Linked DNA regions of Homo sapiens. The protein of the gene in region 2 purifies or fractionates together with the protein of the main gene of each other region. This does not show direct contact. Each region holds a gene or a part of one and is shown on either strand. Other genes may lie near its edges.

What was found. The genes of interacting proteins can lie anywhere in the genome.
Region 1: the proteins of KIFBP (region 2) and KIF3C purify together in Homo sapiens (affinity purification with mass spectrometry; 2 studies listed by BioGRID and IntAct, with this or other methods). This does not show direct contact.

Annotation. Positions count from the first base shown.
Region 1 is NC_000002.12:25,979,698-25,983,623, reverse strand, and holds the start of KIF3C (kinesin-like protein KIF3C), read left to right. Parts: upstream 1-1,126; 5' UTR 1,127-1,706; coding exon 1,707-3,251; intron 3,252-3,926.
Region 2 is NC_000010.11:69,015,143-69,017,482, reverse strand, and holds the end of KIFBP (KIF-binding protein), read right to left. Parts: intron 1,943-2,340; coding exon 1,067-1,942; 3' UTR 501-1,066; downstream 1-500. UniProt on the Homo sapiens protein: Activator of KIF1B plus-end-directed microtubule motor activity. Required for organization of axonal microtubules, and axonal outgrowth and maintenance during peripheral and central nervous system development.

The DNA.
Region 1 (3,926 bases), on a different chromosome or scaffold from region 2:
GCTGGAGCAAGGGGAGTGACTGCTCAAAGCCACTCCATTGGATGGCCATCAGAACTGGAACTTCAATCCAGGTTTTGTCTTAGGTAAATTCTGTGCCTCTTTCACTATAGAAAAAAAAAAATTGCTAAGGGAAGGCTTCGTGGAGGAGGAGGTGCTTGAACTGCCCAAGTGGCAGGGCACTAAGTGCCGAAGGGTGACCAGGCCTCTGGGCAAAAGCACAAAGATGCTGCACAGCAAAGCCAGTTAAAGAAACAAAACACGGTTCCGGGAATGTGCACTGCTTGAGGACAGGAAGGACCCAGATCCTAGAATGGGGCCTGGGGCTCAGCAGGCGCTGGATAACTGAAGAAATGGCTGTCTGGAACACAGATTTTTCTATAGAGGAGTAGTGGCGGTGAGGCTGCGAAGGCGGAAGATGGAGAGGCTTTCACACAAGGAAGGCGGTGGAGGAGGAGCGAGGGGGCTCCCGGGTGCTTGTGCGGACATAAGGTGCGAGAGAATCAGCTGGAAGGTGGGCTCCAGCAGAGAGAAGAGGAAGGCCAGAAGTAGACCGGGACAGGGGGAGGAAAGGACAGAGTCAAGGAACATTTAGGAGTTCGGTTCCCGGAGGCCTGGCGACACCCTGACGGGGAGGGGTGACGCGCACCCATTTGCAGGCAGAAAGGCAGGAGCAGGGGGGTGTCCGAGGATGGTGGCTCGGAGGGACCAGGCATAGGTGGTGCAAGCTCAGCAGTCACTCAAGGGGTGGCATGCGGATGAGGGAGGCGCCTCCCGGACTGGGGGACCGGGAAAGGCATTAGCAACCTGCCAGAACCCGGTTAACAAAGGCAGGACTACAATTCCCGGCATGCTCGGGCTCGGTGGGGTGACGGCGGGCGGTGGCTGCGCTGCACCCGACTGGTGGGCGCAGGACCTGGGTCGGCACCGGAGCCTGTCATCCCGGAGCGGTCGGCGGGGGTGCAGAGACGGCGATGCGCCCCTGTCCCCCGCACCCGGGCCGCTCCGGGCTCGCGCCTCCCGCCCCGCGGCCCCGCCCCCTGCCCCACCCCAGTCGGGAGGCTTAGCTGGGGCCGCAGCGCGGCGGCAACATCACTCTCGCTGCCGCTGCTCCGCCCCATCCCCTTCTGTTTTTCTCTCTCATTCTCCAGTGGCGGCGGCGGGGAAGGCGGAGGCAGAGGCAGCAGCAGCCGCGCTGGCTGCAATGAATGATCCCCCAGCTTGGGGGGAGGACTCCAGGTGAGCCTCTGCCCTCGGGAGGCCCGGGACCCCCGGCCGCCCACGACCGGCAGCCCACGCTATGGATCCCTAGAGGAAGGAGGAGAAGACAGCTCGCCGCCCACCCCCATCCCATTTTCCTCTTCCTTTATCTCATTGTTGCCGAAGCTGTTTACGGCAGCGCTCCCTCTGCTCCTGCATGGGGCGGGCTCCGGGCACGGCTGCTCGGCAGGCGCTGCTCCCGCGGCGACTGGGGGATTCTGCCTAATTCACCTCCCAGCCGGTGCAGAGAGGACCGGAGAGCGGTGGAGGCCCGGACTGCAGCAGCGTTGGGGCCACCTCCCAGCGTCCCCACCCTAGGAGGCTGCATGCGGATTGAAGAGCTGCGCCTGGGGGCTGGGCCGGCCCCGCTGATCCCGACCTAGCGAGCAGGATAGCAGGACCGCCCAGGCTGCGGAGGGGCTCGGGGGCAGGAAGGTCAGAGCAGCAAGATGGCCAGTAAGACCAAGGCCAGCGAGGCCCTCAAGGTGGTGGCCCGGTGCCGCCCCCTCAGCAGGAAGGAGGAGGCTGCTGGTCACGAGCAGATCCTGACCATGGACGTGAAACTGGGCCAGGTGACCCTGCGGAACCCCCGCGCCGCCCCGGGGGAGCTGCCCAAGACCTTCACCTTTGACGCCGTGTATGATGCCAGCTCCAAGCAGGCCGACCTGTATGACGAAACCGTGAGGCCCCTGATAGACTCCGTGCTCCAGGGTTTCAATGGCACGGTGTTTGCCTATGGCCAGACGGGCACTGGCAAGACCTATACCATGCAGGGGACCTGGGTGGAGCCCGAGCTGCGCGGGGTCATCCCGAATGCCTTTGAGCACATCTTCACCCACATCTCCCGCTCCCAGAACCAACAGTACCTGGTCCGGGCCTCCTATTTGGAGATCTACCAGGAAGAGATTCGAGACCTGCTCTCCAAGGAGCCGGGCAAGAGGCTAGAGCTGAAAGAGAACCCCGAGACTGGCGTCTACATCAAGGACCTCTCCTCCTTCGTCACCAAGAATGTCAAGGAGATTGAGCATGTGATGAACCTGGGGAACCAGACCCGGGCTGTGGGCAGCACCCACATGAATGAGGTCAGCTCCCGCTCCCATGCCATCTTCATCATCACTGTGGAGTGCAGCGAACGTGGCTCTGATGGCCAGGACCACATCCGAGTGGGCAAGCTCAACCTCGTGGACCTGGCTGGCAGCGAGAGGCAGAACAAGGCAGGCCCCAACACAGCGGGAGGGGCAGCCACACCATCCTCGGGTGGCGGTGGTGGCGGTGGAGGCAGTGGTGGTGGTGCTGGTGGAGAGAGGCCTAAGGAAGCCTCCAAAATCAACCTCTCATTATCTGCCCTGGGCAACGTGATTGCTGCCCTGGCGGGCAACAGGAGCACCCACATTCCCTACCGGGACTCCAAGCTGACCCGGCTGCTCCAGGACTCCCTGGGGGGGAATGCCAAGACCATCATGGTAGCCACACTGGGGCCAGCTTCTCACAGCTACGATGAGAGCCTCTCCACCTTGCGCTTTGCCAACCGAGCCAAGAACATCAAGAACAAGCCCCGGGTGAACGAGGACCCCAAGGACACACTGCTGCGGGAATTCCAAGAGGAGATTGCCCGCCTGAAGGCCCAGCTGGAGAAGAGGGGGATGCTGGGGAAGCGGCCCCGGAGGAAGAGCAGCCGCAGGAAGAAGGCCGTGTCCGCCCCGCCTGGGTACCCTGAGGGCCCAGTGATTGAGGCCTGGGTGGCAGAAGAGGAGGATGACAACAACAACAACCACCGCCCGCCCCAGCCCATCCTGGAGTCAGCCTTGGAGAAGAACATGGAGAATTACCTGCAGGAACAGAAGGAGCGGCTGGAGGAGGAGAAGGCAGCCATCCAGGATGACCGCAGCCTGGTGAGCGAGGAGAAGCAGAAGCTGCTGGAGGAGAAGGAGAAGATGCTGGAGGACCTGCGGCGGGAACAGCAGGCCACAGAGCTGCTTGCGGCCAAGTACAAGGTAAGGGCCCCAGAGGAGCTGGGCACTCGAGATGTCCCCGCAGGGGATCCCGGCAAGGAGGCTCTTCTTTGAGAGTCTGTGACCTGGCCTGAAGTGGAGGTTCTCCCTCAGCACCGCACACTGCCCTCCTGCCAAATGTGCCCCCAGAGCAGCCAGGCAAATTGCTGTGATACCGGGCTGCCAGGTACATGCACAGGCACACACACACGAAGCAACGTGGACAGGCGGTCTCTCAAGCCAGTGAGCTTGGGGTGGTCTGACCTGCTGTGGGCATTTCCTGCTGGTGGCCTCAGGATCAGTCAGGTCTGTGGGATGGCCAGGCAGCCTCTTGTGAATGTGGGTTCTTGTTCCTTCACAGCCTCCTCCCCTGAGGCTTCCTCCCTCTGCAGCATCTTCAAACCTCACGTCGTTTTAATAATATCATTTGGTTAGTGCTTCAGTTCAAAAAATGCCCCATATATATGATCCATACATGATCTCATTGGATCCTTTGGCCATCCAGGGTCACAGTTCTGAAATCCCCATTTCAGAGGTGAGGAATTAAAGCTTGGAGAAGTGACGTGACCAAGGTTCCATCCTATGAAGTGGCAGAGCTGAGCTGGAACCCATGGACCTCATGCTGTTTCAGTTCTTAGCTGGGCAAAGTGGGACCATGAACAGATTCTGCTCCCTGGG
Region 2 (2,340 bases):
ATTACAGGCATAAGCCACCACACTCAGCCATGAATGATATTTTTTTTTTGAGACAGAGTCTCGCTCTGTCACCCAGGCTGGAGTGCAGTGCCACAATCTCGGCTCACTGCAAGCTCTGCCTCCTGGGTTCACGCCATTCTCCTGCCTCAGCCTCCCAAGTAGCTGGGACTACAGGCGCACGCGGCCACGCCCGGCTAATTTTTTGTATTTTTAGTAGAGACGGGGTTTCACCGTGTTAGCCAGGATGGTCTCGATCTCCTGACCTTGTGATCCGCCTGCCTCAGCCTCCCAAAGTGCCGGGATTACAGGCATGAGACACGGTGCCTGGCCCATGAATGATATTTTAATGTTTTCTAACTGTGCAATGTTATTGAAGAAATATTCTTCTCTAGCTTCAAATAAGCTAGTATCTTTGAGGTATCAAAAAATACCTCAAAGGTATTGAGGTATCAATGTATTGAGGTATCAGTGCTCACAAGAAAACAAAAAGGAAACAGAAGTTTTCATTAGTGAAATAAGTCAGTTTATTTTATTTCTAACAAGGCCTTTTTCTCCTATAATTAAGACAAACCATTTTACACTTTATAATAACATAACTTAGTTTTTAGTATTTTCAAAAGGGAAAGATTTTGGGTGGGGGGAATTTAGGAAGTCAAATATTTTAGAAGGAGTAACTATAGAAGTTACTTTTTCAATCTTAATATATTAACAGGCTTGTTACCAGGTACATTACCCAGCATTTTTTCTTACAAGGAATCTATCAAGTACTAGCCAACAAATAGTCTACATTTAGAAACTGAGGGTAGAAATGTCTGTATTTTAATAGGAAACAAGCATCTAAAATACAAATCACATGTCTTTAACAAGGCAATTTACATAATTAGGTGTAAGTTTTTAATTAACTTTATGTTCCTTAGGATCCTAGCAAACACTCAGTTGACTGTATCTCAAGTTCAAACTGCACTCACCTGGCTATAAAGGTAAACATCACAATGGAATTGGGCCTGTCTGACTAGGGAAAAAGATCACTTCAATATTGCACATTTCCTTTCTTTAAAAACAAGGATTAAGTCAGGGCCATCTTGGTTCTGAATCTCTCCATTTTTGTTGGGAGAAGACTAACCATCTCTTTACTAAGTTCTAGCTCAACTTCTATTTCCTGGGCGGCCTCAGGATGCTTTTCACAGTAATCAACAATAAATTTGTAATGTTCCAATGATGTTGCCAAATTTTCCAGCTCTTTCTTGGGATCTGCAGTAATGATTTTGCCATAGAGACGGGCAACTCGAAACTTAGCTAACATGGCAGGGCGAAGAACATCTTCCCCTATATGCTCAGGGAATACTTTATTTGGGTCTCTCAGGGAGTCTAAGAAGAGCTGGTAGTACTTCAGTGCTGACTTATTAAGATTATTTATTTTTTTTACAATGTGTGAATCAGGATCCCTTAGCCTGTCAGCAATGGCAACCTTCAAATCCATCATATCATAGTAAGCATGTGCAATTTCAAACTGGATCTGTCTGTTGACCAACAGATAATACTGTGGATTCAGGTCTACAGTTAGGGGCTCTAGCATGGCTATTCTGCGTTTATGCATCTTGCACCGTCTCTCCATGTCAGTTTCAAAGAATGCAAGCACCTTAAACAGAGCACTGTGGTCTTGGACAACTTCAATATGGTCAGTGACATAACCATCAATCTGAAAGAACTCTTTTGCCTCAAAGACATAGTGCTGACCCAATAAGAAAAGTTCTCTGGCTTCTTCAAAATCTAAAGGTCTCAAGTAGCTCACTTTCTCTTCTACTGCAGAGATGGCATCACACAGTTCACCGGTTCCAAACTGCACAGCTTTTTTCCGAATGCTTTCCTCCTCATCTAGTTCTTTTTTCCTTAAAGCTCTAAGTTCAGACTGTTTATCAAGATCAAGCTCTCCTATGTTGTCCTGAAGGAAAAAAAAATAAATTATGGTTAAGTAGGACACTCACCTCCTGCTGTTAAATAATATTAAAGCAAACTTCAGAGTTTTTTAGAAGAGAAGTCTCTTACTTTCCAGCCTGGTTTAGAAGGGTATCATAATCTTAAACACCTTTGAAAACTTCTTTCTTTCTTCCGATTATATTAAAAACTCAAGAAATGTGGAAAAAAAAGTATTTAAATAGACAAGCTGCTTACATATCATTTATTCTGAGGAACTGAAATTTATTTACAGTTACTCCTTCCAATAAGATAAATGCTACATGTAAAAGTACTTTGAGAATTGTGAAACATTATATATATGTGATACATTACTCCCAGCACTTTGGGAGGCCAAGGCGGACAGATCACGAGGTCAGGAGTTGA